3 linked regions of the Homo sapiens genome follow. The protein of the gene in region 3 purifies or fractionates together with the protein of the main gene of each other region. This does not show direct contact. Each region holds a gene or a part of one and is shown on either strand. Other genes may lie near its edges. The genes, in order: MAP2K4, NLRP3 and CCDC50.

Region 1 (3,655 bases), on a different chromosome or scaffold from region 3:
AATTCTGGGAGACAATTTCTAGTGGTTAAAGAAATTAGTAATTGGGCCATTTATTTAAGTTCTTTTGTTTGTGGTTGACACTAGGCCACTGAAATTAGTGAACCTTGAACATCAGTAAATTTTATTTAATTTTGTTTGGCTTAATGCTTGTTAGAAATAATATCTTTTTTTCTTTTGGCCTAAAATTATGTAGAGTTAGGTCCCTAAACAAAATTCTTTGTTTCTCTTGTATTTCTTCTTGTTCTTGTCTTGATTTTTTTTTTTTTCCCTTCTTTGTTAGCTGTGTTCTATAATTATGAGAGTAGCACCTTTGAGGCATTTGATAGTTACCTTAGGGATATTTACTGATCACAGTAAAGCACCAAGGTACTGCCTGGGGAGTAGTTGAATAAAATAAAAAAACTTCAGAAGTAACTTTTATTGTTCTCTTACTAAATGAAGTGATGAGTTTATAGCCATCTTTTATCAGTTAGGATCAGTTAGCTTTTTTGTTGGAGTCAGTGCTTTTGATTACAAGTAATAGAAAATCCTGATAACTCTCTTTAAACTTCAGGGAAATTCATTATCTGTCATAATTAGTCCAAAGATGGGGTGGCTCAAAGCACAATATGCTCCTCTTCCTTCTGTCCTCCTTCATGTGTTAACTCTGTCCTCAGGGTAGTAACAACTAGAGCAGTTCCCACTATCATGTCTATATGTGGCTGCCTCGTGAAGAAGAGGTGCTCTCGTGCTGTGCAGCTCTGTAGGGAGTATGGAAACTTTTCCCACGTCTCTAATACCTTTTCTTGGCTCATTCACCAGAAGTGCCTCATGCCCTTAAACCAGCTACTATCAAGAAGCATGAGACTACCCTTATAAAACTTATACCAGCCAACAGCCAGGTTTTCGAGGTGTGGATGTTGATGAGAAGAGATACTTCAATAAAACACAGGTTCTGTTAGAAAGTATGGATGGGGCTGGGTGTGGTGGCTGACACCTGTAATCCCAGCACTTTGGAGACCAAGGCAGCTGGATCACTTGAGGTCAGAAGTTCGAGACCAGCCTAGCCAACATGGTGAAACCCCATCTCTACTAAAAATACAAAAATTAGCCAGGTGTGGTGGCGCATGCCTGTAATCCCAGCTACTTGGGAGGCTGAAGCAGAAGAATCGATTGAACTTGGGAGGCGGAGGTTGCAGTGAGTGGGGATTGCACCACTGCATTCCAGCCTGGGTAAAAAAGAGCGAGACTCTTGTCTCAAAAAAAAAAAAAAAAAAAAGCATGGATGGTTAGGAATGGATGTTTGATAGGCCCACAGCTGTTTCGGTCATGGTAAGAGATCTTTACTGAATTTTTTTGTGGATCACCTTCTGAGTTACATTTAGATGTTTTCTGCATCCTATATTTTAAAACCTTATTTTTTATTCATTGAGCCAGGATAGTGACAAGGACATGGATAAAAGGACTGAGCTATGGATAGAGAATTAGTTGGCACATACTGGTAGTGACTTGATTGTCAATGAGAAAGGGATTTGACATTCCTTATATTTTGACTGTTATGTAATGAATCTGGACTAAGTAAATGAATTTGTAAGCCTCTTGAAAACAATTTAATGCCTAAATTTCTTGTGAAAATTTTTTTTGATATTCAGTTTTTAAGCACTGGCATTCAGAAAATTGTTTTCCTTTCTCATTTTCAATAGAAGAAAACCATTGTTTTTTCTGTGTTTTATAAATATGAAGATGTTAAGAGAAAAATCAATCCCCATCTATATCTTACAGATTAATGTTTGTGAAATGACTTTTGCTGTTACATTTACACAATTATAGTTATTAAAGCTACATGTTTAAAACATGAATAATTATTGTATGTGATAAATGAAGATGTTTTACTTCTTATATATCTGAATTTAAGGACTTGACCACTTATGTTGTCTAAGGTTTTTCAATATTTTTGCTTAAAGTGAAGCCTTATGTAACTTAGGAAGAAGCTAATTGTATACTGAATGATATCTATGTCTTGCAGATATCAAACCTTCCAATATTCTTCTGGACAGAAGTGGAAATATTAAGCTCTGTGACTTCGGCATCAGTGGACAGCTTGTGGACTCTATTGCCAAGACAAGAGATGCTGGCTGTAGGCCATACATGGCAGTAAGTGTTAAGTCCAGGCCTTCTTGCTTGATAGTCATTGCACAGAGAGCCTGTGCTCTTTTGTGCTGGCCATTAGTCATACGGTTTTACCATGAAACTGCTAGAATATTTCCCTTACCCTAAGGCCCAAGCTCAGGTCCTAGCCTCTCCATGAAACTTTGCTAAATTATCCCAGTCAGCTCCTGTTTTCATTGTCTTGCTTTATTTCTCTTACTTGGTATTTAGCAGTTGTGGTCTTCTCTGATTATTGTTTTTTCATTATATTGAACTCAACTCATTAAACAGATGGTAACTTCTCAGAAAGTTCCCACCGTCCCTTAGTGAGACAAATGGGAAGCCTTGAGTTCATTAGCAGAATTCACTATGTATTACAGAGTCTGAAGCTGCATATTTTGAATATTGTTAGTCCTTTTTTTTAGGGGTAGATGAAGCACACCAACAAATGCAAAGGTAGAGGCCTTCAGTATTTTGCAACCTGGAGCCTCTTTTCCTGCAAAGAGACAGATGTACACTATCCATCCATAGATATCAAACTCATCTTACCCCAGTATATTTGCATACAGTGTTCCTACAGCCTGGATTTTGATCTGTATTTGAATGAAAATGTAGTGTCTGTATTTCAGACATTTCCCTAGGTGTTAATGTCTTTCTTCAATGTTGCCATGGTTCTTTGGGGACCAGCACACTACTAAATGTGACACATAAGGTTTTGTGGTTGTTTCTTGAGGCCTCCCTGCCAGCAGCATTTCTTTCCATCTTTGTAGACTGTTTTAAACTAAAGATAAGCTTAGAATTGAATAAAATTGTTCTTTCTTGGTTTCCTCCTTGATATATATGTTTTCAAACCTAGTGCTATAAATAATAAAAAAGTAAGAGTCACAGGCTAGATATTATAGGTGTTCTAGATTATTTATGAATGGATAGGCTTAGTGCTACTACAAATTCAACTTACTGCATTTTTCAATCCTCTTTTGGTTTTGTTATATCTTCCCATATCACTTTTTCTTCAGATGAACATGTAAAAGCGGTGTGTGTGTGTGTGTGTGTGTGTGTGTGTAGACACCTAACCTGTGTGGTAAGACCTTTTAAACTTTTGGTTTTGTGGATGTTGACTGGCTGGGCAGATTTCTTGACTCAGTTTGGAAGATCATTTGTTTATCGTGATAACTAGGGATAAATGGCACAATAGTTTCAAAGGCAAGAAATAAAAAAAATTAGACATGGAGTATTTGGGAAATGTGATTTACATATTTATTAAGGATACCCCGAGAATGAACTGAAATTGTTATTTACAGTTTTAGGGCTTGTCTCGATACTAACAGTGACTAAATGTTTTTGTTGTGTGACACTGACTAAGAATTATATTTGATTGAAGCAGGCTTTGAAAATGCAATTGCAGCCCAGATAAAGTAGAATATTTTGAATTCAGCTTTCTAAGAAAGACTCAGACTTTCTTTAAAACAGACTTTCGTCATTCTTGTGCAGAGATATGCTTTGCAGGCCCAGGAGATGTAAGACTTCT
Region 2 (3,655 bases), on a different chromosome or scaffold from region 3:
AGCAGTATTGAGACAGGCAGTACACAATATGCAGCCAGAGATGAGGACCCAAAGTTCGAGAGAAAAAAATGTAGCTATACCTAACACATAGGCTATACCTAACACATAGGCTATACCTAACACGTAGGCTATACCTAACCCATAGGCTATACCTAACACACAGGCTATGCCTAACCCATAGGCTATACCTAACACACAGCCACATGTATGGCTGTACCTAACACATAAAATGCATAAAAGTCTCGACTGATTAATGCCACTTATAGATACCTATCTCAAAGCAAATACACATGCATAAAACTATATATACAAATGTGCTTTTTGCAGAGTTGTTTGTAATAGTGGAAAAGAACAGTTATCCCAAAATGCATGATTTGATTAAATAAATTATGGTAAAGCACACTATGGGATATTATGCCCCAATCGATAGATCTACACAAATCAGCATGGAAATTTATCCATGATAAATGAAAAAAGGATATCACAGAAAAATATTTATATTATGGTTCTAGTTTCAATAGATAGGGTGTTATGGATTGAATTGTTTCCTCTAAGACTTTATATGTGGAAGTCCTAGGCCCCAGTACTTCAGATTGTGACCTTATTTGGTGATACGGTTACTGAAAATGTAATTAGTTAAGATCAGGTCGTTACAAATCTAACATGACTTGTGTTCTTTCACAGGGAAACTTGGGACATGGAGAAAGACACACACAGACACAGGGAAGACACCACGTAGAGATAAAGGCAATGGTGTGGCAGAGGCATCTACAGGTCAAGGAATGGCAAAATGTGTCAGCAAGATGACATTCCACCAGAAGCCAAAGAGAAGCATGAACAGATTCCCCACAGCCCTCAGAAGGACCCAGCCTGCTAGCATCTTAATCTCACACTTCTGGCCTCCAGAACTGAGGGACAATAAATTTCTGTTGTTTAAGCTGCTCTGTTTGTGATACTTTATTACAGTAGCTCTAACAGACTAGGCATTTAAAATACTACATAACAATGTATTACAAATGCAACATGAAAATCACATAGGTCTTCATTCACATTACTGATATAAATACCACCCAGATCAGCATATACAGGAAATCCATTTGTCCATAATTAGCAACCAATATATGTTCACAAAGCTCTGATACTCCCTTGGATGGATTGATGGATGGATGGATGGATGGATGGATGGATGGATGGATGGATTGACGGATGGAAAATAGAGGGATGGATGATGGATGGATGGATGGATGGACAGATGAATGGATTATATAACAATCTATTGTATTAAAAAAAGTCTGGATGGTTGTTCATCAGACTATTGTAAATGGCTCTCTCAGAAGAGGGCTGAGAAGGAGCTTTCACTTTCCACTTTGTCTGTACTATGATATGTTTACACCAAGCATGTGTTACTTTTCTAATAAAAAGTTTGTGAATGATATCTGGGTTTGAGACCTACTGTTGTTGAAATTGAGAGGTATATGAGAATTCTCAGGGAGTTTAGAAATATTTAGTAACAACAACAACAAAAAAGGTAAACCAGGCGGGTGTGTGGCTCACGCCTGTAATCCCAACACTTTGGGAGGCCAAGGCAGGCAGATCACCTGAGGTCAGAAATTCGAGACCAGCCTGGCAAACATGGTGAAACCCCGTATCTACTAAAAATACAAAAATTAGCCAGGCATGGCAGTGCACACCTGTAGTCCCTGCTACTCAGAAGGCTGAGGCAGAAGAATTGTTGGAACCCGGGAGGCAGAGGTTGCAGTGAGCCAAGATTGCGCCACTGCATTTTAGCCTGGGTGACAGAGTAAGACTCCAACTCAAAAAAAAAAAAAAAAAAAAAAACACAACTAAACCAGTCGTGAAATCCCCAGACCACAGGAAGAGAAGCCAATGCAGGATCCAGGGAGGGGGAAGCTATAACATTAGCAGGAAAGACTAAGTAGTGACCTAAAAATAAGAGCGAAGAAGGCTTCCAAAGAGGAAGAGTGAAATGAATTAAAGGCAGCAGATGTCAACTAAAGTAAGGACTGGGAAGGACCTGTACGACCTATAAGGACCCAGCCTGCTGATGCCTCAGTCTCAGACTTTGGCCTCCTGAACTGAGAGGCAATAAACTCTTGTTGTTTAGGCCGCTCTGTTTGTGATACTTTATTACAGCAGCTCTACCAGGTTAGGTATTGACAATAGTAACTACATAGAGCATATTACAGATGCATCAGGCACATTTGTAATTGGCTTGTTTGTCATGTGGAATTTGGAACCAGGATCACTGAGAGTCACCTGAGTGCCTACGCCTGGGCCTCTTCGGTTCCATCTGCTTTGCCTGGAGGGCTCTTCCGGCTCCTTCACAGCCCATCCCACGCTTCACTGAGCACCTGCTCCAATGTCACCCGCTCGGAGAGGCACTCGCCAAACGTGAGCAGAGAAGCACCCCTCGCCGTCACTCCAGTTTTTCTTATAGCTCTTATACACAGGGTATATTGTTTAGCATGTCTATTATCTGTTATCACTTCCCTAAAAGAACGGTTGTGAAAACAGGATTTTGGTCTGTTTTACTCACTGCTGCTGTCAGTGCCCACCACAGAGCCCCCAGAGGGCCTGCAAAATGAAGGGACAAAATCATGTCTGTTGAACAAACTTAGAGAAGCAGAAGTCAAATTGCCAAGGAAGAGTAATATTCTAAGGCGATTTGCTAAGGAAGGGTAATACCCTAAGGCGAGGAAATGAAGGCACTGCAGGAAGACTTCATAGAAAGAGATATGGTCACATCTGAGGATTGGCTGATGGGAGAGGTCCAAGGAAGTATCAGAGCTTTGTGAACAGAGGTTGGTTGTTAATTATGGATTAGTGGATTACTCCTCTGGGAAGACCTTTCCTGCCAAATTTTGTCTTGAATGCTGATCTGGCTGGTATATATATTAATAATGTGAATGAATGAAGACCTATCCAATTTGCTTATTGTATTTGTAGATATTATTGTCAGAATGAAGATTCAAAACTGCCTAGTCAATGGGTCAAAAGACAGGTAAGATGAGGTTTAGCAAAGCTAAATTGGAGGTCCCACCCTTAAGCTGAGAGCCAGATGAAGAAGCCCTGTAGAGAGCCCATTAGCAACATCTCCTAAGGCAATGCACTGGGAATTAAGGCAGTGGCTTGGGAGGTCACAGACGTTTGTCTACACTGAGTTCCACTACCTTCTCTCTGAGTGTCCTTGGACAAAGTTATGAGGCTCCCTGAATTTTATTTTCTCCTCTTTAAATTGGAGACACAGATACCCTACCCTATAGCATCTTTCTGAAGCCAACTGAGAAAATCCATGTAAGAACATGAAAGAGCAGGTGATACAGGGAAAGTGATACAGGAAAGTGGTACAGGGAAAGTGCATGATTATTAGTGGGTATTCCCTACTACTGTTTACTGCAGAATTCCAACATGAATCAAAAGGCTTATGTAACTGCCAAAAAAAACAAGGAAATCAGAGATTCCACCAGTGAAACCATAGTTCTCTGCAACAGGAGGTAAAACATCCACCATGCATCATCAGGTCTGGGCACCACATTTCAAAGACAGACACTAACAAACCAGCCTGTGTACCTGGGAGAGCATGGCTACATAGGTGAAGGTGCTGAGCCATGACACTGTTGAGGATATAGAGGCT
Region 3 (3,655 bases):
ACTTAGTTTTCAAAAGCCTCTGTCTTCATTCAAGCCTCTACCTGAACCTCCCAAATTAATGTAAAATCTGTATAGAATTAATTGACTAATAACTACATTGGATGTGATAATAAGTGGGAAGAAAGTAGAAGCACCGTAGAGAAGGCAAACCCAAATGAAGTGTTAAAGGTCACAAGTGACACAGAAGATGTATCTCCTGGTACAGAAAATAAATAAGTGAAGCTTCATCTGAGTTTAATGATTTCAAACCATATTTCCAAGAAGTACCATCTCTGGTTCAGTCAGCTAATTATACAGACTCCTGGGAAAGCGAAACTGAGAAAGCAGTAGTAAACAAGCGGTAATCCTGACTTACGGCAGCCCGGGTATCCAGACTGAATAAAAGGTTCCAGTTCAATGAAAACTGCAGCATTTCATCCTTCCCAAGATGTACAGCTATTAAAATTGCCAGGGAGTGAACTGAAAGACTTCCCTTCTAGCTTACTTATTTCATCCAGGAACAATTTCAAAACCTTGAAGTCTCAGGCAGAAATATAATACCCGGTTCTTCTCTCCTTTAGGACCTATAAAATATCACTCTCTACTCCTGATTTATATTTGAGTGGTTTGTCTTGATAATTTCTGAAAAAGCTCATTATACTGTTATTAACCTAATTCAGGATTTTAAACATCTGCATCAACCTCAGAACTGGCCTTTCTAACAGAGAATTGTGAATAATGTAAAGGGCAATGAATTTAGAACTCTAGAACATTCTAGCTTTGGTTCTCACCTTAACCTGTGACACTGAGCCTCATAACATCTCAAATATCTCTCCTCCTCTTTACATCTCCATTACCATGACCTTCAATTTAGGCCTCATCATCTCCTTCCTCTCTGTCACCACTGTCCTCATTCAAGCCTCACCATCTCTTAATTTGACCATTGCTCAACAGCTGCCTTCAAATCTTGCCCACTCCAAGCCTTTACCCACCTAGTCTACAGAATAGATCCCAAAATGAAAATCTGAAACTACTTCAAAGGTTCTCCATTCCTTATAATTTAAAATCTACAAAACCTGAAATCTTTAACATAACTTATCGTGACCCTTTTGATCCAGCTTTTGACTACTTTCCTGGCCTCACTTCCTACTTCTGCCTGTAAATACACTCTCCACTCCAGCAACACTGAACTTCTTGCAGCTAACGTGAGATTGATTCCAAGTCCTCTTACCTCCTGCCCTTATGCATGCTGCTCCTTCTGGCTAGAATGGTTTTCCCCATCACTATAAACTTCTAATTAACCTTCAAGTTTCAGATTAAACACATCGTCTTGTGAAGCTTTTCCCAGTCTCTTCTCTCTAAATAGGCCTGAAATTTACATTTCAATTCTCTGTGACTCATGCACGTATCTCTAGATACACAATGCTCAAGGTGTTTTCCTGAGGCCCTTAAAGGCAACAGCTGTCTTATTCATATCTCTGGTCTCCTTTCATGGTGCCAGATTTAGCATGAATCAATAAAAGTGTTTATTTACAAAATAAGGGAAGCTTAACAAAATGATTAATAAAGTCCTCTCTACAAATAATAAACAGAAAGACAAACCCTTCCTATAAGTTAGCAAAAATGACTGGCTTTCCTTTTTACCTGAATATGACACTGAAGTAAATTAAGGGGTTCCTTCCATTTTTCCTTTACCCCTTCCTCCTCAACACAGTATCTGTGGTTAAATCTACCCACATTAAAGATTTAGGATGTAAGAGCCACTCTCAAAGAAGAAATGTATCCTGGGAGCTTTATAACACTGAAACAGAATAAAAGTCACTGTGCCAAAAGAAACCTGAGAAATAATCATTTCCGTTTATCTGTGTGTTAAAGGAGGCTACTAGAGAGAACTTTTGTCAGACACTGAAGTTATGAAAAAAACTGAGTCTACACTTCAGAGCTTTTCAGAACATTCTGCTATGTACTGAAAAGCAAGGAAAGTAAGAGCGGCAAACACAGCTAGAACATAGTAAAGGAACCAATACAACCCATAAAGTTATTTGATGTCCACTATTTCACTGGATCCCCCAAAGAAACTATGAGGCAGAGGGGACAGAGATTATTATCCGCATGTTATGGGTAAGGAAAATAAATTCAGAGAAGTTGACTAACTGGCCCAAGGTCATAACAGCTAAAAAATGTTAAAATTCACACCATCATCAACATGTCCTTAAACCTGGTCAAGTGCTCCAACAAAAACAAAACATTTTCAAATCAAAAAAACTGTTAGACATCCAGGGTAAGATTTGTAATCTAACAGTAGAAGGAATCAGAGGAACAGAAGTAGTCTCCTTCTCCCCTGCCCTGGTTGCTAGCTCCACAGAGAAAACCAGTCTTGCATCACCCCTCCCACCTCCCAAATCCTCACAGGTCTTTGTAGCGCTTCTGGAGCTGGGCCTGCGCTTTCAGATCTTCCTCTTGGAGCTGCTTAGCCACCTGGAGATCATGCTGGACCAAACGGTTCCGCTGAACGTTCGATGCCAAATGATGCTCAACTGGAACAAAAAGATTGAGGACAGGAATGAATAATGTCTTGGTTTGTTAGTAATAAATGCCATAATAATCTTAAGAGCTTTACCATAACAACAGCTTTGCATCCATCACTTCATTTTATTGTCTCAACAACAATATATAATAAAGAGCAAGGAATTATTATCCCCACTTTTCCATTAAGTAAAAAGAGGATCAAAAAGATTAAATAATTTGCCTTTGGTCACACGGCAACAAAGTGGCAGTGCCAGGACATCTACACAAATATTCTAAAGCCAGGGCCAATGCTCTTTCTACTACTACATGTTGTCACTCTATTTATTAACCGCATTTTTCAAAATGTCAATTTTATATTGATATGTGAATTCACAAATCATATATTCACAAGTATGTACTTTAATATAACATGCATAGCTTAGATTTACTTTTCATCACCACATGGAAAAAAAGATTCAGAAAAATTCACAATGTGATCTCATTTATACCACAGTTGCCTGGGAAAACTGTTCAAGTCCCTATCCTAGGAGCAAGAATAGATTCCTTCTACGCACCCCAGATAAATCTACAACCATTGTGTCCCTCCTACAACAAGAGGCTAGGAAAAAGGTTCAAACCTCTCTTTTTCCTCCTACAGACGCAGCAGTCTACTAATTCCTGGCAGCCTATCTTACTTAACATGCCCGAAACTTCACTGATCACCCAGGCATCATTTGCCTAAAGAAATCCTTCAGGATGTATGGATGGTGAAGCCAAGTGACTGTGCTCTCTCCCCACCTAAGCCCTAAGAAACCAGCCTCAAGCTACCACTAAAAAAAGAAAACTGAAGGAGCATAAATGAGAGGTATTACTCACTCTCTTGTTCCTGCAGGCTGTGAGCCAGGGTGTGGTCCTCCAGGACAGCAAAATCTCGGCATACTAGAGTAGATGGAGGAAAAACAGACAGGAAGGCTCATTAGTAATACTTTAACATACAAAGGAAAGGATTTTTTTTTTTTACTTTAAAAAAAATCAATTCTAATATTTCAGAATGACACACTTTATAATTCTCAATGCATAAAATAGTGACTAGTTAAGTATGCAGTCTTTAGTCACAAAAATCTATAGTGCCTGCTTAGTGCCAAGCACAGGGTGTCACAAAATACTG

Evidence for each region.
Region 1: the proteins of CCDC50 (region 3) and MAP2K4 purify together in Homo sapiens (affinity purification with western blotting; one study listed by BioGRID). This does not show direct contact.
Region 2: the proteins of CCDC50 (region 3) and NLRP3 purify together in Homo sapiens (affinity purification with western blotting; one study listed by BioGRID). This does not show direct contact.

What each region holds. Positions count from the first base shown.
Region 1 is NC_000017.11:12,111,228-12,114,882, forward strand, and holds part of MAP2K4 (dual specificity mitogen-activated protein kinase kinase 4), read left to right. Parts: intron 1-2,005; coding exon 2,006-2,133; intron 2,134-3,655. UniProt on the Homo sapiens protein: Dual specificity protein kinase which acts as an essential component of the MAP kinase signal transduction pathway. Essential component of the stress-activated protein kinase/c-Jun N-terminal kinase (SAP/JNK) signaling pathway.
Region 2 is NC_000001.11:247,436,563-247,440,217, reverse strand, and holds part of NLRP3 (NACHT, LRR and PYD domains-containing protein 3), read right to left. Parts: intron 938-3,655; exon of another isoform or gene 685-937; intron 1-684. UniProt on the Homo sapiens protein: Sensor component of the NLRP3 inflammasome, which mediates inflammasome activation in response to defects in membrane integrity, leading to secretion of inflammatory cytokines IL1B and IL18 and pyroptosis.
Region 3 is NC_000003.12:191,356,859-191,360,513, reverse strand, and holds part of CCDC50 (coiled-coil domain-containing protein 50 long isoform), read right to left. Parts: intron 3,427-3,655; coding exon 3,364-3,426; intron 2,517-3,363; coding exon 2,390-2,516; intron 1-2,389.